Regions from separate parts of the Homo sapiens genome. Here region 2 is linked to region 1. Evidence: fine-mapped expression QTL. A gene starts in region 1. The other region holds a variant in brackets. All regions are shown on one strand. Distances are from middle to middle. Region 1 holds the start of POLR1B (RNA polymerase I subunit B). Region 2 overlaps POLR1B (RNA polymerase I subunit B).

Region 1 (17,111 bases):
CCATGTAAGTCCCTACTCCTAGGTCTTGTCTTTATTTGATGTGACTAAGAGGTTACCCAGTGTGAACAACCTTTTCCCTGGGTGCATTTGTCAAAAAAAATCAACAGCAATTGTTGAACATCTCAGCTTCCTAAGGTGGCTGTAACAGTTGGAACAAACAAACTGACCAAAAGACTTAGAAGGAAAAACTGGGAATGAGATTTCTATAGGACGTTTTGAAAAGCTTCAACCTATTCCTAAGAATGCAGAAGGCCACACACATGTGTAGGACTGTGCACATGCCCAGAAGAGACCTGAGAATTCCCCAGCTCTTTCGTCTGACCTTAAGTGTCTGCACAAACAGAGAGGACAGAGGCAGAAGGAGGGAAAGAGGGAGGGAGGAAAGGTAGGAAGGGGAGAAAGAGAGAGGAAGAAAGAGAAAGGAAAGAAAGGCAGGCAGAAAGAAGGAGAAAGGGAGGGAGGGAGGGAAAGGAGGGAGGGAAGAAAAGAGAAAGATTGAGAAAGAAAAAAGAGAAAGAAGAAAGAAAAGAAAAAAGGAAAGAAAGTTAGTTTATAAAATAGAACCAAGTAGAAATTTTAGAGTTGCAAAGTACAAAAATGCAAATGAAAGATTTACTTGAGAAGTTTAAAAAATGTGTGAACTGGTAAAAGAAGTAATCAGCAAATTAGAAGTCATTTGAGATTATCCAGTCTGTGGAACAGAAAAAAAAAATCAGCAAAGAAAAATGATCAGTGCTTCAGACACCCGTCAGACACCATCAAACATACCAACATACACATAATAGGAGTCCTAGAATAGATAAGTGAGAGAGAGGGAAGGGGATAAAACATATACTGGAAGAAATAGTGGCCAAAACCTTTCCCACTTTGAGGAAAAACATTAAAGTGAATCCAAGAAGCTCAACAAATTCTAAGCAGGAAAGACTCAAAGAGTCCACCTCAAGACACACCAGCCACTAAGTAAATAATTTTAAATATATAGTAAAAAATGACAAGGAAACAGAAATGTTACACTAGAAAATATATAAGAAAAGAGAAGGAAGTAATGAAAAATAGAGGAGAAAAAAAAGGCAAGAGGCCTAAAGAAACCAACAGTAAAATGGTAGATAAATCCTGCCTTATCAGTAATTTCATTAAATGCAAATGAATTAAATACTCCAATCAGAAGGTAGAGATTGGCAAATTGATTTTTTTTAAAAATCATGATCCAACTATATGCTATCTACAAAAAACACACTTCATTTTATTTTTATTTTTATTATTTAGAGACAGAGTCTTGCTCTGTTGCCTAGGTTGGAGTCTAGTGGTGTAATGATAGCTCACTGCAGCCTCAAACTTCTGGTTTCAAGTAATCTTCCCACCTTAGCCACCCAAGTAGCTGGAACTATAGGTGCCTGCCACCATACTTGGCTAATTTAAAACAATTTTTTTAGAGATAGGACCTGGCTTACTTCAAAACTTACCTGGCTAATTTCACTTCACATAACGATCTTCAGTTCCATCCATGTTGTTGGAAGTGACAGGATCTCACTCTTTATGGCTGAACAGTACTCCATTGTGTATAAGCAATATATTTTCTTTATCCATTCATCTGCTGATGGACACTTAGGTCGCTTCCAAATCTTGGCTATTGCAAACAAGGCTGCAGTAAACATGGGAGTGCAGATATCTCTCCAAAAAAAATTTTTTTTTTTTTAGAGATAGGGTCGTACTGTGTTTCCCAAGCTGGTCTTGAACTCCCGTCCTCAGGCAATCCTCCTGCCTCAGTCTCCCCTAAGCAGCTGGGATTACAGGCATCAGCCAATGCACCTGGCAAAACACACTTTAGATTCAAAAACACAAACAGGTTGAAAGTAAAATGATGGAAAAAGATATACCATGCAAACAGTAACTCAAAGAGAAGTGGAGTAGCTATACTAATGTTAGACAACATAAACTTTAAGAAAAAAATTGTTTCTATAGACAAAGAAGGACTTTTTTTTAATAGTTCCAACTTTTATTTTAAATTCTGGAGGTACATACACAGGTTTGTTACATGGGTCCTGAGGTTGGGGTACAGATCCCATTACCCAAGTAGTAAGCATAGTACCTAATGGTTAGCTTTCCAATCCTTGCACCCCTCCCTCCCTTCTCCCTCTTGTCATCTTTAGTGTCTCTTGTTGCCATTTTTGTGTCCATGTGTATCTAATGTTTGGCTCCCACTTATGAGACTGTGCAATATTTGGTTTTCTGTTCCTGTGTTATTTCACTTAGGATAATGGCCTCCAGCAGCATCCATGTTACTGCAAAGGACATGATTTCATTCTTTTTTATGGCTGCATAGTATTCCATGGTATATATGTACTATATTTTCTTTATCCAATCCACTGTTGATGGGCACCTAGGTTGATTCCATGTCTTTGCTCTTGTGAATAGCACTGTGATAAACATATAGGTGCATGTGTCTTTCTGGTAGAATGAATTGTTTTCTTTTGGATATATACCCAGTAATGGGAGGCTATGTTGAATGGTAGCTCTGTTTTTGTTTGTTTGTTTGTTTGTTTGGTGGAGTCTCTCTCTGTCACCCAGGCTGGAGTGCAGTGGTGTGATCTGTGCTCACTGCAACCTCCGCCTCCTGGGTTTAAGCGATTCTCCTGCCTCAGCCTCCCAAGTAGCTGGGACTACAGGCGTGTGCCGCCATGCCCAGCTAATTTCTGTATTTTTAGCAGAGACAGGGTTTCACCATGTTGGCTAGGCTGGTCTTGAACTCCTGACCTCAGGTGATCGACCTGCCTCAGCCTCCCAAAGTGCTGGGATTACAGGCATGAGCCACCATGCCCAGCTGCTCTGTTTTAAATTCTTTGAGAAATCTCCAAACTTCTTTCCACAGTGGTTCAACCAATTTACATTCCTGCCAGCAGTGTATAAGCATTCTCTTTTTTTCCTTAGCCTCTTCAGCATCTGTTATTTTTTGACTTTTTAATATAGCTATTCTGACTGGCGTGAGATGATATCTTATTGTGGTTGTGATTTCCATTTCTCTGTTGATTAGTGATGATGAACATTGTCTCATATGTTTCTTGGCCACTTGTATGCCAAGGACATTTTATATTGATAAAAGGGTCAGTCCATTAGGAAAATATGACAATTATAAACATATGTACCTAGCAATACAGCCTAAAGATACATGACATAAAAACTTAGAGAATTGAAGGAAGAAACAGACAATTTAACTACAATAGTTGGAACCCTCAAAACTCCATTTCAATAATAGCTAGAGCAACTAGGCAGAAGATCAACAAGAAAATAGAAAACACTATAAACCAACTAGACTTGACAAATATCTACAAGGCACTCCACCCAACAGCAGCAAAATACACATCCTTCTCAAGTGCACATGGAACATTCTCTGGGGTAGATCACATGCTAGGCCATAAAACAAGTCTCAGTAAATTTAAAAGAATTGAAATTATACTACATATGTTCTCTGACCATGTTGGAATAAAATCAGAAATCAGTAACAAATTTTGTTAATTTCTGTATTAATGAAGAAATATACAAGTAAAGAGGTTGGACTAATAATAATTCTTTTAAAACTTCCCACAGGGAAAAGCCCAGGACCAGATTGTAAGCCAGATGGTAAGGAATTAACACCAATATTTCATAGAGTCTCCTAAAAAATAGAAGAGAAGAAAATACTCCTCAATTGAGAAGAGTGTCCTCAACTTTATGAGGTCACTCTTAATACCCTGATACCAAAACCAGACAAAGATGTCACAAGAAAAGCAAATAGCAGACCAATAATCTCTTGGGAATACAAACGGAAAAAATCTTCAACAAAATACTAGTAAACCAAATCCAGCAACATAGAAAAAGGATTATACATTATGACTAAGTGGGACTTATCCTAAGATTACAAAGTTTGGAATAACTCATGTTCTCTTGTAAGTGGAAGCTAGGCTGAGCACGGTGGCTCACTCCTATAATCTCAGCACTTTTAGGAGGCCAAGGTGGGCAGATCAAATGAGGCCAGGAGTTTGAGTCCAGCCTGGGCAACATGATTAAATCTGGTCTCTATAAAAAATACAAGAATTAGCCAGGCATGGTGGTGCATGCCTGTAATCCCAGCTACTCTGATGGCTGAGGCACAAGAATCGCTTGAACCTGAGAAGAGGAGGTTGCAGTGAGCAGAGATCGCACAACTGCTCTCTGTCCTAGGTGACAGAGCAAGTCCTGTCTCAAAAAAATTAAAAAGTGGGAGCTAAACATTGGGTACACATGGACATAAAGTTGGGAAGAGGCCAGTCGCGGTGGCTCACGCCTGTCATCCCAGCACTTTGGGAGGCCAAGGCGGGCGGATCATGAGGTCCGGAGATCAAGACCATCCTGGCTAATATGGTGAAACCCCGTCTCCACTAAAAATACAAAAAATTAGCCGGGCGTGGTAGCAGGCGCCTGTAATCCCAGCTACTCAGGAGGCTGAAGCAGGGGAATCACTTGAACCTGGAAGGCGGAGGTTGCAGTGAGCCGAGATTGCGCCACTGCACTCCAGCCTGGGTGACAGAGACTCTGTCTAAAAAAAAAAAAAAAAAAAAAAAAGATGGGAACAGCAGACACTGGGGACTACTAGAGCCAGGAGAGAAGGAGGGGAGCAAAGATTGAAAACTACCTATTGGATACTGTGCTCGCTACCTGGGTGACAGGTTCAACCATACCCCAGACCTCAGCATCACCCAATATACCTTTGTAACAAATTCGCACATGTACCCCCCTGATTCTAAAATAAACGTTGAGAAGGGGAAAAGAAAGAATGCAAGGTTTTTTTAACATACAAAATTTACTTAATATAATATACCACTTTAATAGAAAAAAGAGGACAAAAAGCACATGATCATTTCAATATACACTGAAAAAGCATTTGGCAATACACAACACTCTTTCTTGGAAAAAACCTTTCAACAAACTAGAAATAAATTACTTCCTCAACATGATAAAGAGCATCTTTGGAAAAACCCACAGCCTACATCATATTAATGGTGATGTGAAAGCTCCAGTTGGGAGCTTTCTTCCCAATATCAGGCACAAAACAAGTATATTTATTCTTGTCACTTCAACATTGTATTAAATGTTCTAGACAGAGCAATTCGACAAAAGGAAGGAAAGAAGACTGCGCATTCAGATTGGAAAGGGAGAAGTATGATGATCTCTCTTTGCAGACGACAAGATACCATATAGAAAAAGTCCTAAGAAATCCACTTACGCTGTTAGAACTAATAAAGAGTTTAGCAAGATTGCCAGACACAAGATCAATATACAAAACTCAATGGTATTTCTACATATTACAAACAATTTGAAGTTAAGAAAACAATTCCATTTATATCAACACCAAAAAGAATGAAATACTTAGGAATAAATTTAACAAAAGTTCATTTCTACACCAAATACTACAAAACATCTCTGAAAGAAATTAAAGAACACCTAAATAAATGGAAAGACATCCCATGTTTATGGATTGGGAGATAATTATTGTTAGGATGAAAATAGGCCCCAAATTGATCTACCAATTGAACACAATCCTGATCAAGAATCTCAGCCTTCTTTGCAGAAATTGACAAGCTGGGCCGGGTGTGGTGGCTCACACCTGTAATCCCAGCACTTTGGGCGGCCAAGGCAGATGGATTACTTGAGGTCAGGAATTCAAGACCAGCTTGGCCAACATGGTAAAACCCTGTCTCTATTAAAAATACAAAATTAGCCAGGCATGGTGGTGCATGCCTGTAATCTCAGCTATTTGGGAGGCTGAGGCAGGAGGTAGAGGTTGCAGTGAGCCAAGATCATGCCACTGCACTCCATCCTCAGCAACAAGAGCAAAACTCTGTCTCAAAAAAACAAAAAACAAAAAAAAAAAAAAAAGAGAAAGAAATTGACAAGCTAAGCTGACGCTAAAATCCATATTGAAATACAAAGGATCAAATAAATCTGGAGAAAGAAGAACAAAGTTGGAGGATGTGCACTTCCTGATTTCAAAATTTATTACAAAGCTGTATTAATCAAATCTGTGTAGTTTGTAGACAGATATACAGATAAATGTAGATAGACATACAGATCAAGAGAATAGAACTGAGAGTCAAAAATAAACCCTTGCATCTATAGTGAACTGATTTTCGACAAGGAGGCCAAGACAATTTGATGAGGGAAAGAATAGTCTTTTTAACAAATGGTGTTAGGACAACTGGATATCCACATGCAAAGGAATAAAGTGATATGCCTTTCTCACACCATATACAAAAATTAGCTCAGAATGAGTCAAAGACTTAAATGTAAGAGTTGAAACTACAAAACTCTTAGTAGAAAATATAGGTGAAAATCCCCATGATTGAAAAATATCTAGTATTTGATAGCACAACAGGGTGACTGCAGTCAGCAATAATTTGTTGTACCTTCAAAAATAACTGAGGAAGTACAATTGGAATGTTCATGACAGAAATGATGAATGCTTGAGGTGATGGAAACCCCATCTACCCTCCTGTGATGATTACATCGTATGCCTATATGAAAACATCTCATATACCTCATAAATATGCTAATTATGTACCCATAAATTTTTTTTTAAATCCTCATGACCTTGGATTACACAATGATGTCTTAGATATGATATAAAAAGACAGGCAACAAAAGAAAAAAACTACACTTCAAAATTAAAACGTTTTGCTTCAAAGGACACCAGCAAGAAAGTAAAAACCCACAGAATGGGAGAAAAATATTTGCAAATCATGGATCTGACAAGGACTAGTATAGGCTATATAAAGAACTACAACTACTCAGTTGGCCGGGCGCGCGCGGTGGCTCATGCCTGTAATCCCAGCATTTAGGGAGGCAAGGCGAGAGGATCACTAGAGGCCGGAAGTTCAAGACCAGCCTGTGCAACAGACTCCCGGCTCGAATTTTTTATAAAAAGTGATATAGGAATGAAAAGTACCAGCTGAACTAGGAAAGGGGAAGTTGACAGTAAGGAGGGACTATCAGGGGCAGGAGGATACTGGGTAGTGGTGGTTTAATTCATTGTTTTAATTGTGGTGATGGCTGCATGGTTGTATACATAGGTCAAAACTTAACGCGTACACTTTAAATGTGTGGTTTATTGTATGCCAGTTATAACGCAATATAGCTGTTAAACACAAACACAATAAAGTTGAAAAACCAGCAGGCATTCCCTGATTAATCAGTATTCTGGGGAGGTAAGGGGCTCACAGGAACGCAAAAGAAATTCAGGCTGTAAATCCAGTTGGACGCCCCGCTGCCCCATCCCCTCCATCCGGGACCGCCCGACTCCTCTCCCACCTCCTTCCCCAGGCCTCCCCCAGGCCTCCAGTCCGGAAGATGCGACGAGGTTAGCGGGGCCCGACCACTCCTTGGCTTCCCAGGGGTGAGCCTCGCGAGTTAGGAGTTGGGTAGAGAGTCAGCCCGGGGCCCGGCATCCGCTTTTTCGTTGAAGCAACGACTTTGGCCGGATGACTCCCCAGGGTCGGCATCAGCGTGGGACTGGGAACAGGTGAAGGGAAACAGAAGAGAGCCTGAGAAGACCGCTCTCCTCCGATCCTAATTGACTGAGCCAATGAGAGCCAAAGAGGTCACATGCTCAACTGGGCGGGGAGCGGGTTTCCACCTGCGGCATCTTTCGCGAGCGGGGAGATGAGTGGGGCGGAATATGGGAGAAAGGGAGGGCCCGCCACGCTCTGGCTGGACACGGCCTTAATCGGCCCGTTCACTCGACGTTTTTGGTTCTACGTTGACCCCGAGAAACCGAAACCGCAGGGCCTAGGGCGGGTGGAACGAGAGGGAACTACATTTCCCAGCAGGCTGCGGAAACGGGACTGCGGCCACTACTTCCGGCGTGTACCGAGAGACTGGCGTCCGGCGTGTACCGAGAGACTGGCGTCCGGTGTGCAGGTGGCCACATGGATCCTGGCAGCCGGTGGCGGAACCTGCCCAGCGGGCCTAGCCTAAAGCACTTGACTGACCCCTCTTATGGAATCCCGCGGGAACAGCAAAAGGCAGCGTTGCAGGAGCTGACGCGGGCGCACGTGGAGTCCTTCAACTACGCTGTGCACGAGGGTCTCGGCCTCGCGGTGCAGGTGAGCGCGGCGTCCGCCGGCGCCCTTGCCGCGGCGAGGCCAATCCCAGGGAGGTGGCTGGGAGGTCACAGTATGACCCCAGATGCATGTGCTCCTTGATCCTGACAGGCTTGGTGGGTAAGCGGGAGAGCACAACATGTTAAACAGGACGCGGTACTGGCCTTCGTGAGACTTGGAGTCGAGGCGTCTTAAGAGATGTATTCGTGATTCTGGAGTGAAAAGTGATTGTGAACCGTAGTTTGGACAGTTTCGGGGTGCTGTGAGAGTGAGGAAGTGGCTTATCTGGGGATGTGCTTCACAATGCACACGGCTTTATATCACTTGAAGACTTACCTCTCCAAAACGTACCTCGAAAGATCCCGAACGTATTTGTAGGTACAGTGTAATGTTCAAGGTTATCCTTCAGTTTCCTTCTCTTAGAGCTTTAAAGAGAGAAACTACTCGTCATTTGTTATGAATTAAGCAGGTGCCGAGGAAGGTATAAATGAGTCATGAAAGCAAGATTGAATCGAAAAGTGTAATTGCATTATTAGCGTAGAGTAATGGTAGCAGAATTCAAGTGAGTATGGTGGGGGAAAGCTTCGTTTAGTAAGCATCCCCAGTGTCTCCAGGCACTAGGCTCAGAGGATGTGGAGGAGGCAGTCCCGTGTACGAGACAGTTCATGCATTTAAGTGCTCCCTGTCGTGTTTGGGGGTTGAAGGGGTGAAGATAATGAAAGCAGTGCATGCCAATGTTCTTGAGAACTGCTCTGCCAAGGGATTGTGTGGGCTACTGCGGGAGCCTATGGGCGGCGCAACTAATCCAGGAGTTTGAGAAAGGGCAGGATTAGATGAGTTCAAGAAGTGAGAAACGTGCATTTCGTCCAGGGGAAGAGTAGAGCAGAGTCACATGCTTCGGGGACCCTACCTGTGGTTTTGTTGGGTAAGATTTGTGTTGTGGGAGATAGGGATACAGATAATGTGGAGAGCTTTGATTGCCAGTCTGATTCTTGAACTCTATTCGGCAAATAATATGGGAGCCATTAAGATTTATTGTTTAGAAAGACTAGAGGGGTGGGGGTTATTTGTATTGTGCCTGGATTGTTACAGTATCATGTCTGTGAGAAAAAATTCCTAATTAAAAGTTAATCGGGCTGGGTGCAGTGGCTCACACCTGTAATCCAGGACTTTGGGAGGCCAAGGCAGAAGGATGACTTGAGCCCAGGATTTCAAGACCAGCTTGGATAACATAGTGAAACCCCATCTCCACAAAAATTTAAAAATTAGTGGGGCATGGTGGTGCGCACCCAAGTAGCTGGTCCCAGCTACTCGGGAGGCTGAGGTGGGAGGATAAGTTGAACCCAGGAATTTGAGGCTGCAATGAGCTATGATTGTGCCGCTGCACTCCATCCTCGGTAACAGAGTGAGACCTGTCTTTAAAAAAAAAAAATCCAATTGAGAAATTTTAGAAAAGCACTAATTTAAAAATAAGCCAGTCGGCTGGGTGTGGTGGCTCTTGACTGTAATCCCTGCACTTTGGGAGGTCAAGGCGGGTGGATCACTTGAGGTCAGGAGTTCCAGACCAGCCTGGCCAACCTGGTGAAACCCCATCTCTACTAAAAAATACAAAAATTAGCCGGGCATGGTGGCACATGTCTGTAATCCCAGCTACTCAGGAGGCTGAGGCACGAGAATCGCTTGAACCTGGGAGGCGGAGGTTGCAGTGAGCCAAGATTGCACCACTGCATTCCAGCCTGGGTGACAGAGTGAGACTCTCCCAAAAAAATAAATACATAAATAAATAAACCAATTATATGTTAACATTTTTAAGAAAAATATTTTCCAAAGCAAAAAAGAAGTTAGATGAATTGCATTATTAAAAATCTTTTTAATGTCTGGCTTAATGAAAAGACAGCTGGATTCTCATGTCTGCTTGTGCATTCAGTCCCTTGTGATAATTGTTTTGGTTGAAGTAGATGAAGAAAATTTGGCCCTGCATAGAAAATGATGCCACAACTTAGCTAGGACTATAATAATATAGTATTTGAAAAAGTTCTGTAAAACACAGTAACATAAATAACTAATACTTATAAAGCCAAGGGAAAAAATAGTTATCATATTTTTTACTTACAAAACATAATTTTGCCAAGTTTCTTTGGAGTGAATTCCTCCTTTCTGTGAGTCAGAATTTATGTGTCTGTCTTTTCAAAATACAATTGATTTTTATTACTTGGGGATTCCATATTTGCAAATTCACCTACTCACTAAAATTTACTTCTACTCCAAAAGCACCATGCCCAGAAGCAGCAAAAAAGTTGAGTTGCTCAGTGTCCATTTTCCCAGCTGAGATCTAACAAGGTGATGCTCGGCCTTCTTGTTTTAAGTTCTTAAACTATAAACAGAGGTTGTCTTCACTATCTATTTAGTGCCGTGTTTTGTGCTTTTTGTTGGTGATTTTGCTGTTTAAAATGTCCCCCAAGCAAAGTATTAAAGTATTAAAGTTCTGTATAAAGTTCCTAAGCACAAGAAGGCTGTGCTGTGCCTTTAGGGGAAAATATTAATACATGCATTTAACATAGGCTTTGTTCAGGCATGCGTTAGGGACTCAATAATATATATTAGATAAGCTGTCCTTAAACAGAAACCCACATAATGCAAGGTTGTGTATTGATCAGTGGATGAAATCATAGGCTTTGTTCAGGCATGAGTTACGGACTCAATAATATGTATTAAATAAGCTGTCCTTAAACAGAAACACACATAATACAAGATTGTGTGTTGATCAGTTGATGAAATGTGACCAGAGGCTCGCAGGAAGCTAACCATGTATTTACCCTAGGAGCAGTGGTTCAGTATTGGCTAATTCAGTGTTTATGGCAACTGTATAGAACATAACTATTATGAATAATGACAGTTCACTGTATTTCCTTCTAAATAGTGCAGCTGCGTCTTGAGAAAGCAAATTGTCTAATCTCTCTTTTTTTAACTTCATTCTGTTTTTTTTTTTGAGACAGGATCTCACTTTGTCACCTAGGCTGGAATGCAGTGGCATGGTTATAGCTCACTGCAGCCTCGACCTTCCAGGATCAAGTGATCCTCCCACGTCAACCTCTTGAGTAGCTGGGACCACAGGCGTGCACCACTATGCCCGGCTAATTTTTTTATTTTTATTTTTTGTAGAGACGGGGTCTCCCTATGTGGCCCAGCCTGGTCTCAAACTCCTGAGCTCAAGTAGTCCTCCTCTCTCGGTCTCCCAAATATTGGGATTACAGGTATAAGCCACTGCATCTGGCTTTTATTTTTAAATAAAATATGAATTTCTAAAATAATACCAGCTTTAGATAACATTTTAAAATTTAGAAAAGGTAAGTTAACTCACGTGAAGGTGGAGAACCTCCTTGGTATTCTTTCTTGGTTCCATTTTTTCATTTTCATTATTCTAAGACTAAGTCTAGGAGGTTGCTTGTAATTAATATATAGGAGAGCTTGGTGATGCCCCTTCCTCAGAACAGCAAAGCTTCCCCTACAGAATGGTACAAAGAAGTAACTTCTGTGGAAGGGGAAACCCAGCCTGGCCACCATCTTTTCCTTTGCATGGCTCTGGCTTCAGTTTGACGTTGCCATTGTACATTAAGCATCTAGTCTTAAATCCTAAAGGATGTTTCCGTATCCTTGCTCTATTAGCAGTAGTCCCATTTGTCTTGCTATGCACATAGACAAGTTAAGAATACACAAGGCTCTTGGTTCAGAGAACAGGAATTTTGTTCTGTTCACAGCTGTATCCCTAGAGCCTACTACAGTCTCTGACACATGTGGTCACTCAAAACAATCTTGTACTAATAATGCTTTGTGGTTTTAAGTATTTAGTGAAGTTATGAGTAGACTGGAGGTAGCTTTTTTTTTTTTTTTTTTTTTTTTTTTTTTTTTTTGAGACGGAGTCTCGCTCTGTCGCCCAGGCTGGAGTGCAGTGGCGTGATCTCTGCTCACTGCAGGCTCTGCCTCCCGGGTTCACGCCATTCTCCTGCCTCAGCCTCCCGAGTAGCTGGGACTACAGGCGCCCACCACCACGCCTGGCTAATTTTTTTTGTATTTTTAGTAGAGATGGGGTTTCACCGTGTTAGCCAGGATGGTCTCGATCTCCTGACCTTGTGATCCTCCCACCTCGGCCTCCCAAAGTGCTGAGATTACAGGCGTGAACCACTGCGCCCGGCCAACTGGAGGTAGCCTTAACTGTCCTTTTTAGGTGTGTCATGGTGGCATCACAGGCATCAATGTTTGTAGAACACATAAGATTTGGAAGAGTCTTAGAGAAAAAATGCCTTGGAAATGCAAGCAATTTAATAGTGTGAATTGCATTTCAGGCTATACCTCCCTTTGAATTTGCTTTCAAAGATGAGCGTATCTCTTTTACTATTCTGGATGCTGTTATCAGTCCACCTACAGTTCCAAAAGGGACCATCTGCAAAGAGGCCAATGTTTATCCAGCAGAATGCCGGGGCCGAAGGAGTACCTACCGTGGGAAGTTGACAGTGAGTACTAGTGATACTGTGTGACTCTCAACACTGCACATATTTGGGAGTAGGGCGGGTGCCTAATAAAGTTTATGCCAGAAATTGCTTTCTTGGTGCTATTGTCTAAGAGATCCCACCTTCTAAATCTAAGGCATAAAATAATTTAATTGATCTTCTTCCTCAGTCTTTGAAAATACTCATTTGTTCTCGTAAATGCAGATATTTCTGTTAAGTAACTTTTTCTCTTGTTTTCATTTAGGCTGATATCAACTGGGCAGTGAATGGAATCTCAAAAGGAATCATTAAGCAGTTTCTTGGCTATGTTCCCATCATGGTGAAATCCAAGCTTTGCAACTTACGTAACCTTCCCCCACAAGCCCTCATTGAGCACCATGAGGAGGCAGAGGTAATGACGGGCGTCCAGGCATGAGACAGTAGAGAAGGCCTGGGTTGGGAGTAAGAAGACAAGAAGTGTGTCAGTGTTTTCTTTCTGTGCTCCAATTTCTGGATAGGTGAAAGAGATATCAGTATCTTGCCTGCATACAGTGTATGGCTCTGAATAACTATCAAATTAGACAGTATGAAAAAGTGGCTGTAAAATTAGAGAATATTATTGTTCGGGGGGAAGAACTGGTAGGTTTTTCCCTAATTTTCTGAATGATAGAGACATACTTCCACAAAATTTGTTTTTTTTTTCAAGCTGTCTTAATCCACAAAGCTATTGTCAAAAATGTCTATTTATCTGGGCATGGTGGTGGCATGGATCTGTAGTCCCAGCTAACTGGGAGGCTGAGGCGGGAGCATCAGTTGAGCCCAGGAGGCCTCACTACAGTGAGCCATGATTGTGCCACTGCACTCCAGCCCGGGAGACAGAGTGAGACCCCGTCACTAAAAAAGTGAAATAAAAATGTCTGCTTTGCTAACAGTAAGATTCTGTGCGCATATTAAATGACTTATATGCATTCCCTTCATCATTTCTTTCAGCTATATTAGGTGGCTTTGCAGAGTTGAGTTGAGGTAATCAAGATGAACAAACAGTGCCTACTAAATAGGTAGATGGTGTTATGTGGTGGGAAGAGGGTTTTGGTGTCAGATCTGGGTTTGACACACAGCTCTTCCGCTTATCAGTCTTGTGGTTTGGGGAAGTTAATCTCCCTGAGCCTCAGTTTCCTCTGCTGCAAGTGGGTATAATAGCTACCCCACTCATTGTTATGAGAATTAAATGTTATGATAACATAGAGCACCTACTATAATATGCCTGTTTCATAGTAGGCAATTCGTAAATAGTAGCTGTTTATTACAGAAATGTGATATTGAGCAGAGCTATTAAAAATATTTTTCTATTTAGCTAATCCAAATTTCTGGTTTCCAGAGCTTTCATACAATCAAGTTTTTGAACGTATTTGGGAAACCATACTCGTATGGAAGCAAAATGGTTACAGTTTTTATCTTTCTTTTTTTTTTTTTTTGAGACGGAGTCTCCCTCTCTCACCCAGGTTGGAGCGCAGTGGCGCAATCTTGGCTCACTGCAAGCTCCGCCTCCTGGGTTCAAGCCATTCTCCTGCCTCAGCCTCCCGAGTAGCTGGGACTACAGGCGCCCACTACCACGCCTGGCTAATTTTTTGTATTTTTAGTAGAGACGGGGTTTCACCGTGTTAGCCAGGATGGTCTTGATCTCCTGACCTTGTGATGCTCCTGTCTCGGCCTCCCAAAGTGCTGTGATTACAGGCGTGAGCCACCGCGCCCGGCCCAGTTTTTATCTTTCAACACCTCTTTGGAGTAAGTTTTTTTTAGTGTTATTTGAAGACTGAAGTCATTTTAGGGGACAGAAAGGCAAGATAGGTTGAGCCTGTCTGATAAAGAGAAGTACCCTGTTTTTCTTCCATACTTTTTTCCCATGTCCCTAGGACCTTTGTAATATACTTGAGAAAACTGTTAATTCACACAAAGACAGTGTCTGTGTACTGTTTTCAAGGGATCAGTAGTACATTTCACCTCTGTGTTCCTATTCTGTGTGTTGTACTACCTTTGGCTAGGAGTGAGGTTCATGTTTACAGTTAGTCATGTATCTTTGTTTAACAAGTTGCAATTCATCTTTTTGGCAGGAAATGGGGGGCTATTTTATAATCAATGGCATTGAAAAAGTCATCCGAATGTTGATTATGCCTCGGAGAAATTTTCCCATTGCAATGATAAGACCAAAATGGAAAACCAGAGGGCCTGGTTATACTCAGTATGGTAAGTTCTGGAGATTATTAGAATATTTTTTAAGGAAAATTTAAAACTTTTTTTTTTTTTGAAGTAGATGCATCCAAATGGTCTTTGATATTTTTGTTTCTTTTTTTTTTTTTTTTTGGTAGGGATGGGGTTTCACCACGTTGCCCAGGCTGATCTCGAACTCTTGGGCTCAAGCAGTCCTTCTGCCTCAGCCTCCCAAAGTGCTGAGATTACATGCATGAGCCACCGTGTCTGGTCTTTCTTTTGTTTTTTGTTGTTTTTCTATTGAGCATTCTTGTGTTAAGTTTTCATAATTGGGATGGAAGAAGAAATGGAGAGATGTTAGTCAGAGGATACAGACTTGCAGTTACAAGATGAATAAGTTCTGGGGATCTGATGTACAGCCTGGTGATGATAGTAATACTGTACTGCTTAAAATTGATGAGTACATTTTAAGTGTCTCAACCACACACGCGTGCACACGTACTACAAATGATAACTATGGTGATTGATGTTTTCATCAGTTTGATTGTGGAAATCATTATAATATATGTATATGTATATTCAAGGTATTGTACACCTTGAATATATATGATTTTTATCAATCATAAGCATTTTAAAATTCACTTTTGCTAACTGAAAGAGCATGTGTATTTTTGTTACTACTTATGAAGATGAAAGCTAGTCTGGCTTGGCCATAAGTGGGTGTGGGTCTTGGCTGTCTTCTGGTTCAGGCTGCTGCACTTTTGCAAACTGAAAGAGCATGTGTATTTTTGTTACTACTTATGAAGATGGAAGCTAGTCTGGCTTGGCCATAGGTGAATGTGGGCCTTGGATGTCTTCTGGTTCAGGCCACTGTGGTACACCCCTCAGGGTCTCTGTCTGACAGCCACCTGGCCTCTGTTGGAACATTCTCTTTGACAATGCCTAAGACAGCATGTTGTATTCTTGAGCAACCCTGACAGTTAAACAATTTGTCCTGATAGTTGAGCTAAAAATCAGACCTTAATTATAGCCATACATACTATACCTAGAAAAACAGCATGCCTGAATGTCTAGTGATTTTCTTTTGCATCAGTTGATGGTAGTATGTCTTAGCAGTCTTTGCCTGAAACTGAAATAAAATCTAAAATTCTACTTTTCTCCATTGGAACTATTAGATCAAGCACCATGTCTTGACCAGACTCCACAGTTTAAGGCAGATATAAAGTGCTAAAAGATGTGGACTCTGTCCTGGAGGGAAACTTTGAAGTTTGCTTAAATTCATAGTTTCGGTTATTTTACATTAGTGTTTCTCAATCTGGGTAGATTTTGCATGCAAGAGGACATTTGCTGAGGTTTAGAAACATTTTTGATTGCCAGTCTTGGCTAAACTTAGTGATTTGGCTTTAATTGTGTCTAAGAGGTTAAGATTGTTCAGAAAGAAAATGGTTGAAGCAATTAAGATATCAATGAGTTTCTGATTTTTTTGTTGTTTGGTTCAATAGGAGTTTCAATGCACTGTGTGAGGGAAGAACATTCCGCTGTCAATATGAACCTCCACTACTTGGAAAATGGCACTGTTATGTTGAACTTTATTTACCGAAAAGAACTGTTCTTTCTTCCTTTGGGATTTGCACTTAAGGTATGACTTAATGAATGCATTCTTTTGTTATGAAGAAATTCACTGGGGGTAGTATCCTGTGCACATTGGATGGATTCTCCTTGTTAAAATAATACTGTACTAGTTGTCTACTGCTCCAAAACAAATTACGTCAAAATTCAATAGCTTAAAACTCAATAACATTTCTGTCTCACAGTTTCTGCGGGTCGGGAGTTTGGGAGTGCTTTGGCTGGGCACTTGTGGCCCAGGGTCTCAGGAGGTTGCATGGAGATGTCAGACAGGACTGCAGTCATTTTCAGGACTTCCAAGGTGGCTCACTCACATGGCTGGCAAATCTGCTGGTTGGTGGCAGGAGGTCTCCTCATGGGGTTGCTCTCTACATGGCCCTTTCTGTAGGCTGCTTGAGGCAACTGTCTTCCTCCATATAGTTAGCTGAGAGAACAGAGAGCAGAAGATGCAGAAGGAAAAAGCTGCAGTGCCCTTTGTGATCTAGCCCTGGGAGTCTCCCATTATCTTTTTCACCACATTCTCTTGGTCAAGCAGGCCAGCCTTGATTCGGCATGGGAGGAAACTACACGTTTGTGAACACCAGGAGATGAGGACCCTGGAGGCAATTGTGCTGTCTGGCTATCATACAAAGAATGCTTTATTTTAGAGAGTTTACTTTGATTCAGCAATAGCAGAGTG
Region 2 (15,036 bases), 26 kb after region 1:
ACCCTTTAAAAATATATATTGTTCACGTGGTAACATTGAATTCTCAGCCAACAGCAGTGTAATTATAGGCTTATCTAACACACATGTTTTTCTGTTAGGCACATCACACCTTTTTGCATTTATGAACACTAGGCAGCACTTCAGTGCTGCACTCGGAGGCAATTTGTTTTTTCTGTTTGTTTGTTTGTTTGTTTGTTTTGTAGAGATGGGGTCTTGCTATGTTATCCAGGCTGGTCTCGAACTCCTGGCCTCAAGCATTCCTTCTGCCTTGGCCTCCCAAAGTGCTGGGATTGCAGGTGTGAGCCACCATGCGAAGCCTGGAAGCTGTTATTTAAACAGCTTCCAACAAAAAATCACACCAACAAAAAGCACAAAAATGCTGAAAACGTGCCAGTGAACAGACTGGGCAAGGGGCACTTGTTTATAGTATGAGCTGACAAGAAGGCATGGCATCGTCTTGTTTGACTTCAGCTGCGGGGAGCATCTGCATCGGGGGACTCAAAGTTTTTTGCTGCATGTTCTGAAATGACTTTGAAAGCATCCCCAGTATTAATTTTGTGGTTACAGAGATAATGTAGCAAGTAGGCAAATGTGCACATAATGAGGATTAACTGTAATTACATTTTGGGGGTTAATGCATTTAATGCATTTAGGTGGCTTAGAAATAAAAATATTAAGACATACAGTGAAATGCTCCCTCCCATAGGCCCCTGTCCCCTTGCTACTTCTTTCCTGTGTGTCCTTGCTGAAGCAATTTAAACTTCCACAAGCAATACAAAAGCCTTCAGGCTTACCCCGGAGATATTGCAGGTTTGGTTCCAGAGCGCTGCAATAAAGTGAGCCACATGAATTTCTCGGTTTCCCACAGTGCATATGAAAGTTATGTTTACACTATGCTGTAAATATTTCAATTTTAAGAATACTTTATTGCTAAAAAATATTAAATCATCTGACCCTTCAGTAAGTTGTAATCTTTTTGCTGGTGGAAGGTCTTGCCTCAGTGTTGCTGGCTGCTGACTGATCTGGGCGGTGGTTGCTGAAGGTTAGGATGGCTTGTGACAATTTCTTTTTTTTCTTTTTTTTTTTTTTTTTGCGACGGAGTTTCGCTCTTGCCCAGGCTGGAGTGCAGTGGCGCGATCTCGGCTCACCGCAACCTCCACCTCCCAGGTTCAAGTGATTCTCCTGCCTCAGCCTTGCGAGTAGCCGGGACCACAGGCATGCACCATCATGCCCGGATAATTTTTTTTGTATTTTTAGTAGCGACGGGGTTTTTCCATGTTGGTCAGGTTGGTGTCGAACTCTCGACCTCAGGTGATCTGCCTGCCTCGGCCTCCCAAAGTGCTGGGATTACAGGTGTGAGTGACTGCACCCGGCCAGCTTGTGACAATTTCTTTCTTTTTTTTTTTTCTTTTTTTTTTTGAAATGGAGTCTTGCTCTGTCACCCAGGCTGGAGTGCAGTGGCGTGATCTCGGCTCACTGTAAGCTCTGCCTCCCGGGTTCACGCCATTCTCCTGCCTCAGCCTCCCGAGTAGCTGGGACTACAGGCGCCCGCCACCACGCCCGGCTAATTTTTTTGTATTTTTTATAGAGACGGGGTTTCACCGTGTTAGCCAGGATGGTCTCGATCTCCTGACCTCGTGATCTGCCCGCCTCTGCCTCCCAAAGTGCTGGGATTACAGGCGTGAGCCACCACGCCTGGCCTGTGACAATTTCTTAAAATAAAACAAGTTTGCGACACCAATTGCATCTTCCTTTCACAAAAGATTTCTCTGTAGCATGTGATGCTGTTTGATAGCATTTTACCCACAGAGGAGATTATTTCCAAGTTGCAGTCAGTCCCCTCAAACCCTGCCGCTGTTTTATCAACTAAGTTTATGAAATAATCTAAATCCTTTATTGTCATTTCAACAATGTTTACAGCATCTTCTCATTTCTTGAGATCCCATCTCAAGAAACCATTTCTGCTGGGCACAGTGGCTTAGGCCTGTAATTCCAGCACTTTGGGAGGCCAAGGCGAGAGGATTGCTTGAGCCCAGGAGTTCGAGACCAGCCTAGGCAACACAGGGAGACCCTGTCTCTACAAAAAAAAAATTTAAAAATTAGCCAAGCATGATGGCACGCACCTGTCAGCTACTCGGGAGGCTGAGGTGGGAGGACTGCTTGAATCTGGGAGGTTGAGGTTGCAGTGAGCCATGATCATGCCACTGCACTGCAGCCTGAGCGACAGAGCAAGACCCTGTCTCAAAAATAAAACAAACCCATTTTTTTTGCTCATCCTCTAAGAAGCAATTCCTCATCCATTCAGTCTGATTATGGGATTGCAGCAATTCACTCATAGCTTCAGGCTCTACTTCTAATTCTAGTGGTCTTGCTATTTCTACCACATCTACAAGTCCAGTAGTAACATCAGAGATCACTAATCACAGATCACCATAACAGATATAATAATAATAATATTTGAAATATTGCAAGAATTACCAAAATGCCAGCACAGAGACACAAAGGGAACACTTGTCGTTGGAAAAATGGCATTGATAAGCCTGCTTGAAATATCTGAAGTGCAGTTAAAAGAAATAATGCCTGTACCTGTTTTAGAGACAAGGATAATTTGATATCTGAACTGATACAGCAGCTGTTGACCCCATCTGGAGGGAATCTGGAATGTTGGATGAAGCATTCTGATGTGATTGTGCTGTTTGTTTCCTTTACCAGGGGTCACTCCCATTGATGGAGCTCCCCACCGATCATACAGTGAGTGCTACCCTGTCCTGCTGGACGGTGTCATGGTTGGCTGGGTGGATAAGGATCTTGCTCCAGGCATCGCAGATTCTCTTCGTCATTTTAAGGTGGGCTTGAGGCTTTGTGAATTGTCCTATCCCTTGACCTTAGGTTTTTCAGTTCCTTTCTAGTTTTGGGGTTAACCCCTGGGCGGTCTAGAGTGATCAAGTGGTCAGGGGGTCACAATGTCCAGAATGCCTGTGCATTCCCTCTGGTGACAGAGGCTTGCCTTATACTGGCCTCATTGGTTGGGGTCAGTGACAGATATTTGACCCATATACATTCTTTGGCAGTTTCATTGAGGCACCTCAGTCTGCTTATCTAACTAATTTTAACTTTTTTCCCCCTTCTTAATACTAGTGGCATAGAAGGGATCTCAAAATACAGATATTTCAGTAATATTCAAAATATGCAAGGTAGAAGTTATACCCCATTGCCTCCTAGGTTTTGAAAATATATTTTTAAAAAGTAGAATGACATTCTTTGAATAACTTACCTTTGGGATTTCCTCCTAGTGAAGAGTATTTGTTGCTTTGATAATGGCCATTGAAAGAATTATCCTTTGGCAACAGGCTGTTTGTGGTTTATATTCTGTTCTGTGTTTTTATTTTTAAAAAATGTTTAAACTAAATTTTAGTTTTCGTTTAAGTGCTGTTTCGGACACTTGGGTTGTTTCTACCTTTTGGTCATTGCAAATAATGCTGCTATGAACATGAGTGTACAAATATCTATTTAAGTCCTTGTGCTTTTAATTCTTTAATTCTTATATTCCTATAAGTGGAATTGTGGCTCATTTGATATAATTTTACACTTAGAGCAAAGATGTTTAATCAGTACATGGGACCCCCCTGTATACACATTACCCAAATCCACCAGTTGCTATGCTTTGCCCTACATCCTTTATCTTCTGTATACTCAATTTTTTTCTTTTGAACCATTTGAGAGCAGTATTGAGACATTGTCTCATTTTCCATAAAGATTTTAGTGTACTTTTTCTAAGAACAAGGACTTTCTCTTCAATAACCACAGTACATTTATGAAAATCAGAGAAGGTCATGTGGGTGGGATCCATAGTTGATACTCAGATTCCACCAGCTGTCTCAGTAATGCTCTCTTTTTTTTCTTTTCTTTTCTTTTTTTTTTTAGAGAGACGGGTCTCACTCTGTTGCCCAGGCTGGGGTGCAGTGGCACAATCACAGCTCACTGCAGCCTTAGTGTCCCAGGCTTAAGTGATCCTCCCACCTCAGCTTGCCAAGCAGCCTGACCACAGGACTGTACCACTGTGCCCGGCTACCCTGACCCAGTCCTTTGGGTTGTTATGGAGGCTTTATTACATAGGATGACTGATGGAATCATTGGCCACTGGGGATTAGCTTAACCTCCAGCCCCTATCCCCTTCCTGGAGGTTGAGGGTGGGGGTGAAAGTCCCAATCCTCTAATCCTGGCTTGGTCTTTCTGGTGACCAGCCCCATCCTGAAGCCACCTAGATGCTGCCAACCACCAGTCTTTTATTTTTATTTTTTTGAGTCAGAGTCTTGTGCCTCAGCCTCCTGAGTAGCTGAGACTACAGGTGTGTACCACCACGCCCGGCTAATTTTTTTTATTTTTAGTAGAGGTGGGGTTTCACCATTTGGGTCAGTCTGGTCTCCTGACCTTAACTGATCCACCCGCCTTGGCCTCCCGAAGTGCTGGGAATCACAGCTCTCCTGTAATTTAGGTTTATGTTTTGCTTCCTCATGATGAGATTCAAGATATTTCAGGAAGCACATGACGTTGGTTTGTCCTGTTACGACTCATGTTAACTGATCCCTTCAAAGTTGTGTTCTTTAGGTTAATTCACTGTACAGTTTCTGTTTTTCTCTGTAATAAGTAACTTGTGGAGAGATAGTTGAAAGCTATGTGGAGCCCTCTTTCTTCATATTTTCACCCACTAGTTGATGGATTATTAGCTGAATTACTATTCCATTGGTGGTTCTTTGCTGAGTTAATATTACTGTGATGGTTACCACATGGTGTTTTCCCCCACCAGCATTTTTTCTATGTTTATTAGTTGCTATTCTGTAAGGGAGGGCTTTCTTTTCTATTAGTTGTTCATTTATTTATGTTAGCGTAGATTTATAGATGCTTGTTTAATTTTGTGAATATTCTGTTACTACTTATTTTGATGCTCAGAAAGTGTATGAGATTTGATCTAGTGTACAGTTGAGGGTTTTAAGTACATTCATGTTGTGGAGTCATCACCATCTTCAGAACTTTCTCATCATCACAAATTGAAACTCTGTAACCATTAAACAATCATTCCTCTTTTTTTTTTTTTTTGAGGCAGAGTCTCGCTCTGTCGCCCAGGCTGCAGTGCAGTGGTGTGATCTTGGCTCACTGCAGCCTCCGCCTCCCATGTTCAAGCAATTCTCCTGCCTCGGTCTCCCAAGTAGCTGGGATTACAGGTGCACACCACCATGCCTGGGTAATTTTTATATTTTTAGTAGAGATGGGGTTTCTCCATGTTGCCCCGGCTGGTCTCGAACTCCTGACCTCAAATGAGCTACCTGCCTCATTAGTCTCAGATTTTATCTTTTTTATAGAGAATTTATTTTCATTCTCTTTTTTTTGGTTAGCATTGTGGAGCATCGGAGGATGAGGACACTTAAGATCTGCTCTCTTAGTAAATTTCAAGCATGCAATATAGTATTCTTAACTATAGTCACATGCTGTACATGAGATCTCCAGAAACTTAATTTTGTTGCATAACTGAAGCTTTATACTCTTTGACCAACATCTCCCCGTGTCCCCCTCCACCAAACATTCTCTCATTTTTAATGATAATGCATCTAGCTGTGAATCCCCATGAGTTCTGACACATGGGTTTGTTGTTGTTGTTGTTGTTGTTGTTGTTTTCAGGTTTCTGTAATTTAGGTTTTTATTTCTCCTTTCACCCAGGAGTTTGTTGGAGTTTTTTTGTTTTGTTTTTGAGACAGGGTCACTCTGTCACCCAGGCTGGAGTGCAGTGGCATGATCATGGCTCACTGCAGCCTCAACCTCCTGGGCTCAAGTGATCCTCCCACCTCAGCCTCCCGATTAGCTGGGACTACAGGCACGTACCACCACACTCAGGTAATTTTTTAATTTTTGTAGAGACGGGGTTTCATCATGTTGCCCAGGCTGGTCTTGAACCTCTGGGCTCAAGTGATCCACCCACTTTGGCCTCCTAAAGTGCTGGGATTACAGGTATAAGCCACCCCCGGCCCACCCATGAGTTTTTGGTTTATTAAATTTACAAATAAAACCAGTAATCTACTGTATTTTAGATCACAGAGGACAGAATTTCCTTTAGTGTATCGACACGTGCATTCATGGTGTGCTTTATCCTTAGCCTCAGTAGTTAGTGATTTGCCTACTAGCTGGGGTGAGCACCCAAGGAAGTAGGGCTTTTACCATGGCTGAGTGTGGATGAGTGGTATTCCATGGGGCATAAGACTGGCAGCGACAGCCATGGCCTTGGGACAGGTTTGTTAAACTCTGTTTTTGTTAAAAACAGGTGTTGAGAGAGAAAAGAATTCCTCCCTGGATGGAAGTGGTCCTTATACCCATGACAGGAAAACCAAGTCTGTACCCAGGATTGTTCCTTTTTACCACTCCTTGTAGACTGGTACGGCCTGTGCAGAACTTAGCATTGGGCAAAGAAGAGCTAATTGGAACTATGGAACAGGTAAATACATATGTGTGATGGATGAGTGTATGTGCTTGTTTGTATAGTATACAACTTTCAGAGACTTAACTCTTCCTTTTTTAAAAGGGTTGTTAATGTTACAACAACAGTTGGACATTTGAAAGAAAGTCAGACTTTCCACCTCCTCTATGATCAGCACAGAGCAATTTCCATGTCTGATCTCACTCCACAGAACCTGAGAGAGGGCTGGTGGTCACATTACCTGCCTCCCATCTTATCTAGCTCCCAGAACTCCTTTGTACCTGGCTCTGCCTCAGCCGTGAAGTGAAAACATTCCATTAGATTCACACTCAGTCTTTGCCTACATATTTACAGTTGCAAAATTATAGGCTTTGTGCTACTTAAAAATTTTTCTTCCTATTCCCCTTCACAATTGGTCTGGGGTAGTTTTAGAGTGAGATACGTAAAGCAAGTGGTATTTCTAACTGGTCGCTTCCCTGTGCTTCCCAGTTGATCCCTTCAGCACTCATGATGCTGGGTGGGGATGGTTTTCTCTTGAGTCTTTGAGTACTGAACTCTGAGAAATGGTAAGAGTAAATGTGTAACCAGTTGCAGTTATTTTGTGCCTTGGACATCTGCTCTTCCAGATCTTCATGAATGTCGCTATCTTTGAGGATGAAGTTTTTGCTGGAGTTACCACACACCAGGAACTCTTTCCACACAGCCTGCTGAGTGTGATTGCCAACTTCATCCCTTTCTCTGATCACAACCAGAGTCCACGGAACATGTACCAATGCCAGATGGGTAAGGAAGAGGGATGATGTTACAGTCACAATCAGGAAAGTAAACTTGATACTAGCACACTCTTTTATTGTCCTTATTTACATATGCTGACCATTTGTTCCAAAAATACAGTTTATGGCAAGTTTTTCTTTTTTCTGTGCCACAAGCAACCAGCCCAGGATCACTCATTGTATTTAGTTGGCATGTCTATTTAGTTTCCTGTAATTTATGACAGATCTTTAAACATTCTTTGTCTTTGACATTGACATTTTTGAAGAAAAAGGTATAGAATGTCCATAGATTTGGGTGTGCCTGAGGTCTTATTATTTGATTTTTTGAAGAATACAAGCAATTATAGTCACCCGCATATTTATCACTTCCAGTCCTCTTCATTCCTGCTGCAAGATTCAAGTTTTCATTGTATACAATTTTCCTTCAGCCTGATAATCTTCCTTTAGCATTTTTTTATAGTGCAGGTTGCTGGCCACAAATTCTCTTTGTTTTCATTTATCTGAAAATGTCTTTATTTTGCTTCACTTGAAGGAATCTTTCACTGGATATACAATTCTGAGTTGACAGTTATTTTTCTTCCAACACTTAAAAGTTGTTGTTACACTGTCTCTTCTTAGTCTCTGTCATTTCTAGTTAGAAGGCAGCAGTCTTCTGAATATAGTGTGTTTCTTTTTTTTTTTTTTTGAGACAGAGTCTCGCTCTGTCGCCTAGGCTGGAGTGCAGTGGTGTGATCTCGGCTTACTGCAACCTCTGTCTCCTGGGTTCAAGTGATTCTCCTGCTTCAGCCTTCCAAGTAGCTGGGTCTACAGGGACTCACCACCACACCCAGCTAATTTTTGTATTTTTAGTAGAGACGGGGTTTCACCATGTTGGCAAGGCTGGTCTCGAACTCCTGACCTCAGGTGACCTGCCCACTTTGGCCTCCCAAAGTGCTGTATTACAGGCGTGAGCCACTGCGCCCGGCCTCAAATTTTGTTTTTTTTCAGTTTAATTAAATTGCTAAACTCTTCTGTCATTATTTTTAAAAACATTGCTCCTATCCTTTTCTCTCTTTCCTCCTCTTCTATCAGTTATTCATATATTTAAACCTTTTGATATTGTTCCATAAGACATTGAGTTTCTGTTCTCTTTTTTCTTTATTTTCTTCAGATTGGATCTTTTTTTTTTTTTCCCGAGATGGAGTCTCACTTTGTTGCCCAGACTGGAGTGCAGTGGTACAATCTCGGCTCACTGCAACCTCTGCCTCCCATGTTCAATAAATTCTCCTGCCTCAGCCTCCTGAGGAGCTGGGATTACAGGCACACACCACCATGCCCAGCTAATTTTTGTGTTTTAGTAGAGATACGGTTTCACCATGTTGGCCTGGCTGGTCTCAAACTCCTGACCTGAAGTGATCTGCCTGCCTCAGCCTCCCAAAATGCTGGGGTTACAGGTGTGAGCCACTGCACCTGGCCCAGATTGGATTATTTTTATTGACCTATTATCACAGTCACTTTTTATTCTGTCTTCTACTGAATTTTTGCTTACAGTCATGTGCCCTTAACGACAGGGATACCTTCGAAGAAGTGAGTCATATGTGATTTTGTCGTAGTGTGAACATCATAGAGTGAACTTACACAAACCTAGATGGCAGAGACTACTACACACCTAGTATATGGTATAGCCTGTTGCTCCTAGGCTACAAACCTGGGTGGCATGTAACTGTACTGTGTACTGTCTACAGTTGTAAGACAATGGCAAGGATTTGTGTAGCTAAACATAGAAAAGGTACAGTAAAAATATGGGATCACCATAGTATATATGCCATCCTGCATTGACTAAAACATTGTTATGCAGTGCATGCCTGTATTTTTCAAGTCCAGCACTTCTACTTGTTTCTTTTTTTTTTCTTTTTTTTTTTTTTGAGACAGGGTATCGCTCTGTCACCCAGGCTGGAGTGCAGTGGCACGATCTTGGCTCACTGCAACCTCTGCCTCCCCAGTTCAAGCAATTTTCCTGCCTCTACCTCCTGAGTAGCTGAGATTACAGGCATGTGCCACCATGCCCAGCTAATTTTTTGTATTTTTAGTAGAGGCAGGGTTTTATCATGTTGGCCAGGCTGGTCTCAAACTCCTGACCTCAAATGATCTGCCTGCCTCAGCCTCCCAAAGTGCTGGGATTACAGGCATGAGCCATTGCGCCTGGCCTGACTTGTTTCTTTTTTTATAGTTTCTTTCTTCTCTAAGATTTCTTATCTTCATTCATTGTGGGCATGTTTTCCTTTATATTTTGAACATAGTTTTATATGATGGGTGTTGTAAAATCATTATCTGCAGATTCCAATGTCTGGGTCATCTTAGTATCAGTCTCTTTGAGTATAAGTCAAGTTTCACCATTTCTTTGTATGCCCAGTAATATCGGATTGTATTATGAACATTGCGAGGAGTATGTTTTAAACCCTGGATCCTGTTAGGGTCCTCTGAAGAGGATTGGTTTTGTTTGTTTTTAGTGTGGTGTTTGGCCTTCAATTACATTTTAATTTTTTTCATTTTATGTCTTTCCTTCTTAATACACAGTCCATCACCTGGTTCAGTGCATGTCACCAAAAATTCTCCAGGGGAAGAGGATTGGTTTTTAGTTTTCACTGGTACTTAACTTGGTGAACGTGGCAGTTGAAGTACATTCTTCAGCCTTAGGTGGGCTGCTGTGATCTGTCCCATGCATGCATAGTTCAGGAGTCCACCAAAGATTCGGACCCAATTTATATGCTGAATTTAAGGGTCTCCCTTTGTGGTTCTCTCATTTCTGAAATGTTCCCCCTTCCCAATTGTTGTCATGCTCAGAACTCTATTTCTTGGTTCTTCAAGCCAGTAAGATTGTGGGTTTCTATCTAAGTTGTAGCTGCCACACTGGGCCATAAGGCAAAAATAAATACATAAATACTTAAAAACCTGGAAATTCACCCAGTGTGTTCCTTTTGTCCAAGTAAAAATTCTTCTCAGCTTCTGACAGCTTTTGGTTACTCTCCAGTGCTGTATGTGTAGTTGGGGGTCTGCGTCTCATACTTATGTGTTGAGGGTGGTCTAGTAAGAGTAGCCCTTTATTACTGGAAGCTCTAAGTCTATAATTTTTTTAAAAATTTCACTTGTATGTATTTATATTTTAAAATCATTTTGT[C/T]GTGAAATGATTCTCTGTACTGTGAGGTAGTACACAGAGGAATCTCACCCCATGCTCCACTACTTAGAATTAAATACATATTCCGCTGTAAGAAAGTAATCTAATTACGTAATAATTCCTATCCCCTTTTCTTCCCCGAGTAGTGATAGCCTGTAATTTGCGTACTTCCTTTCTGTCCCCTTCTAAAGCTTTTATTACATCATACATGTATCCATAAACTAAGTATAGAATTGTTTGGGGTGTGTTGCAAATACACATAAATCGTATCATATTAAATGTCAGTCTGCACTTTCTCCCACTCAGCATGGTTTTCCTGGTCTGGTCACGTTGATACATTTAGGTTTACTTCATTTTCACAGCTTATGTATTAGTCTAAAGTAAGCATAACTACCATGACTATTTATTTGTTCATTTTCCTCTGATGGATATTTAGTTGTTTCCAGTGTTGCGTATCACACCTATAATCAAGATGAAAGCAGCAGAAAATGCTAAGATGTTTTTTCTCCATGTAGGTAAGCAAACTATGGGCTTTCCACTTCTCACTTATCAAGACCGATCGGATAACAAACTGTATCGTCTTCAGACTCCTCAGAGTCCCTTGGTGAGACCCTCCATGTATGATTATTATGACATGGATAACTATCCAATTGGGACCAATGCCATCGTTGCTGTGATTTCTTACACTGGCTATGATATGGAAGATGCCATGGTAAGTTTTACCAGGAAATGTTGTTCCAATCTTTTTATTTTTTAACTTGTTTGTTTACTGTGAAATCACTGAAGGAATATTTTTGTGTACCCAAGTACCTAGTATTTGGCACGTGATGTTCTATTAAATGATTAGTTCTTAGTCTAAGTTGAAAGTGGGCAAGCCTTGAGGAATATCCACTAAATATTCAGATACACGTATGTCTTGCATATTTGAGTGCATATTATGAGTAAATTTTGAAGTTTGGTTTTGGATCTATCTACCTTTTATATTTAAGTATGATTAGATTTTAAGCTATTTCTGTGTGCCTGGGTTTTTGTTTTTCTTGTTTTTTGTTTGTTTGTTTTTTGTTTTTTATTTTTGAGACGGAGTCTCGCTCTGTTGCCCAGGCTGGAGTGCAGTGGCACGATCTTGGCTCACTGCAACCTCCACCTTCTGGGTTCAAGCAGTTCTCCTGCCTCAGCCTCTCGAATAGCTGGGACTACAGGCACCCATCACCATGCCTGGCTAATTTTCGTGTTTTTAGTAGAGATGGGGTTTCACCATGTTGGCCAGGCTGGTCTCGAACTCCTGACCTCAAGTGATCCACCTGCCTTGGCCTCCCAAAGTGCTGGAATTACAGGCGTGAGCCACCGTGCCCAGCCATGTCTGGGTTTTTGTAGTTAGTATCAGTGATTTGGAAAATGTGAGGAAAGTTAAAATGTGATGCCAGTTATCCTAAACCAAGTATGATAGTCCCACCTAGTTTTATTTTGAAAATCCTCAATTGGCCTCAGTCTTTTAACGATTCTTTTACTTCACAGATTGTGAATAAGGCCTCTTGGGAACGAGGCTTTGCCCATGGAAGTGTCTACAAGTCTGAGTTCATAGACCTCTCTGAAAAAATTAAACAAGGAGATAGTAGCCTGGTGTTTGGCATCAAACCTGGTGACCCACGCGTTCTGCAGAAGTTAGATGACGATGGATTGCCGTTTATAGGAGCAAAACTGCAGTACGGAGATCCGTATTACAGCTACCTCAACCTCAACACCGGGGAAAGTTTTGTGATGTACTATAAGTAAGTTTGGGTATCCAAGCTGTTTTGTTTTTGTTTTTGTTTTTGTTTTGAGACAGGGTCTCAGTGTGTCAGCCGGGCTGGAGTGCAGTGGAGTGATCTCAGCTCACTACAACCACCACCTCCCGGGCTCAAGCAATCCTCTCGCCTCAGCCTTTGAGTAGCTGGGACTCCAGGCATGGACCACCATGCCCAGCTAATTTTTTGTATTTTTAGTATAGACGGTTTCACCATGTTGCCCAGGTAGGTCTCGAACTCCTGGGCTCAAGTGATCCACCTGCTTCAGCCTCCCAAAGTGCTAGGATTACAGGCCTGAGCCACCATCCCTGGCCTATTTGTGCTTTTTTTAAAAACTGTATTATCCAAACTTTGTCATCTTTCTCACATACAATGTTAGCAATGTTTCCTAGCCAAAATGTTGAGCTCATACCTCTTATTAGAAATGTCTTATTTTAGCTTATTTTACAATATAATTTATTTCAATAGGCTTTCATAATAATTTTTCAGTTGCTTTTGTTGCTAGTTTTCTTTCAGATGAACATAATTCTGTAGTGAATATCACCAATAGCTCTATTCATACCATCTCTGTTTGTATTGGAGAATAAAGGTAAGAATGAGTTTTGCAGGCCAGGCACAGTAGTTCACACCTGCAATCCCAACACTTTGGGAGACCAAAACAGGAGGATTCCTTAAGCACAGGAGTTCATGATCAGTCTGGGCAATGTAGTGGGGCCCTATCTCTACAAAAAAAATTTAAAGACTAGCCAGGCCTAGTGGCATATACCTGTAGTCCCAGCTACTCAGGAGGCTGAGGTGGGAGGATTGCTTGAACCCGGAAAGTCAAGGCTGCAGTGAGCTGTAATTGCACCACCGCACTCCAGCCTGGGCAACAGAGTGAGACCCTGTATCATAAAAAAAAAAAAAAAAAAAAAAGTTTTACAAATATCCTTTATGAAGCACTAATTATATCAATGAAACTTATCTCCATAAGTTAAAACAAATAGGTTGACCTTATATGGTTTACTTTTTCCTAGGAGTAAAGAAAATTGTGTTGTGGATAACATCAAAGTGTGCAGTAATGACACTGGGAGTGGAAAATTCAAGTGTGTTTGCATCACTATGAGAGTGCCTCGGAACCCAACTATCGGAGATAAATTTGCCAGTCGCCATGGGCAGAAGGGCATTTTAAGCAGATTGTGGCCGGCTGAGGACATGCCTTTTACTGAGAGTGGGATGGTCCCAGACATTCTGTTCAATCCCCATGGTTTTCCATCCCGCATGACCATTGGGATGTTAATTGAGAGTATGGCCGGGAAGTCTGCAGCTTTGCATGGTCTCTGCCATGATGCTACACCCTTCATCTTCTCAGAGGAGAACTCGGCCTTAGAATACTTTGGTGAGATGTTAAAGGCTGCTGGCTACAATTTCTATGGCACCGAGAGGTTATATAGTGGCATCAGTGGGCTAGAACTGGAAGCAGACATCTTCATAGGAGTGGTTTATTATCAGCGCTTACGCCATATGGTCTCAGACAAATTTCAAGTAAGGACAACTGGAGCCCGAGACAGAGTCACCAACCAGCCTATTGGGGGAAGAAATGTCCAGGGTGGAATCCGTTTTGGGGAGATGGAACGGGATGCGCTTTTAGCTCATGGTACATCTTTTCTCCTTCATGACCGCCTCTTCAACTGCTCAGATCGGTCGGTAGCCCATGTGTGTGTGAAGTGTGGCAGTTTACTCTCTCCACTGTTGGAGAAGCCACCCCCTTCTTGGTCTGCCATGCGCAACAGAAAATACAACTGTACTCTGTGTAGTCGCAGTGACACTATCGATACTGTTTCTGTGCCTTATGTTTTTCGGTATTTTGTAGCTGAACTGGCAGCTATGAACATCAAAGTGAAACTGGATGTTGTTTAACTTGATGTTGACCTTTTGGATTAAGAGGACTATCAGATTAAAGCAAAATGTAATTTTAATTCAATGAAGATATCATTACCAGGTTACTCTTGAGATTTTTCAACGGTGTTAGAACTCTCAACCAAGACCTGAAAACCAAGTATGCAAGGTTTCTGAATCTCTCTGGTAGATTAACTATTGACAATGATTTTCTGTTATCTTTGTTCAAAAAGTTCATGTCTTCTCAAAATATGAAATATTGATAAATGGAAGAGCATACGGTGACAAGTCTCCTTTCCAACCCCAGGTTCCCTACACCCTGCTCTCAGCAGGCAGTGAGTGTCACACACCTGTTAATCCATCTTGAGCAGGACAGTACTATACAAATAGAATGCAAGCTGTAATGTAATTTTATATTTTCTTATAGCCACGTTGAAGTAAAAACAAACAGGTACAGTGTTTTTTACCAGCTTTATAGAAGTACAGTTGTTACATATTTAATGAATACAATTTGATGGGTCTGACTATATGCACACACCTTTGATACCATCACCACAATCAGGGTAATAAACATACCTGTCATCTCCACAAGTTTCCTCCTGCCCCTTTGTTTTTTGCTTTTTGGTTGCTGTTGAGTTTTTGTTTTGTCTTCTGTGGTAAGAACACTTAACTCAAGACCTACCCTCTTAACAAATCTTTAAGTGCACGATATAGTATTGTTAATTCCAGGCACCATGTTGTACAACAGATCTTTAGACCTTACTTGTCTTGCATAACTGAAGCTTTATACCTGTTGAACAACTCTCCATTTCCCTGGCCCCTAGCAACCACCCTTCTACCCTGTTTCTATGAGTTTGACTATTACAGATATCTCATATAGTGGGATCATGCAATATTTGTCCTGTGACTGGCTTATTTCACTTAGCATAGTGAAATAAGATTCATCCATTTTGGAAGCCAGGCATGGTGCTGTGCATCTAT

Evidence for each region.
Region 2: its variant is fine-mapped to the expression of POLR1B in whole blood (TOPMed, PIP 0.93).

The regions. Positions count from the first base shown.
Region 1 is chr2:112,534,558-112,551,668 of GRCh38, forward strand. POLR1B (RNA polymerase I subunit B) reads left to right here and starts at 7,908. Exons shown (of 15, transcript NM_019014.6): 1 at 7,908-8,114; 2 at 12,455-12,622; 3 at 12,864-13,010; 4 at 14,710-14,842; 5 at 16,309-16,445. The coding sequence starts at 7,938. It overlaps TTL (tubulin tyrosine ligase), which reads left to right. Exons shown (of 7, transcript NM_153712.5): 7 at 1-7,182. It overlaps LOC105373562 (a long non-coding RNA gene), which reads right to left and starts at 7,655. Exons shown (of 2, transcript NR_136321.1): 1 at 7,646-7,655; 2 at 7,099-7,521. RefSeq lists an enhancer at 7,791-7,940.
Region 2 is chr2:112,561,654-112,576,689 of GRCh38, forward strand. POLR1B (RNA polymerase I subunit B) reads left to right here. Exons shown (of 15, transcript NM_019014.6): 10 at 2,713-2,846; 11 at 6,314-6,484; 12 at 7,093-7,249; 13 at 10,909-11,105; 14 at 11,909-12,162; 15 at 13,194-15,036. The coding sequence ends at 14,076. Among named protein-coding and RNA genes, the nearest start is that of CHCHD5, 15 kb to the right of the region's middle. The variant C/T (reference allele first, on the strand shown) is at 10,397.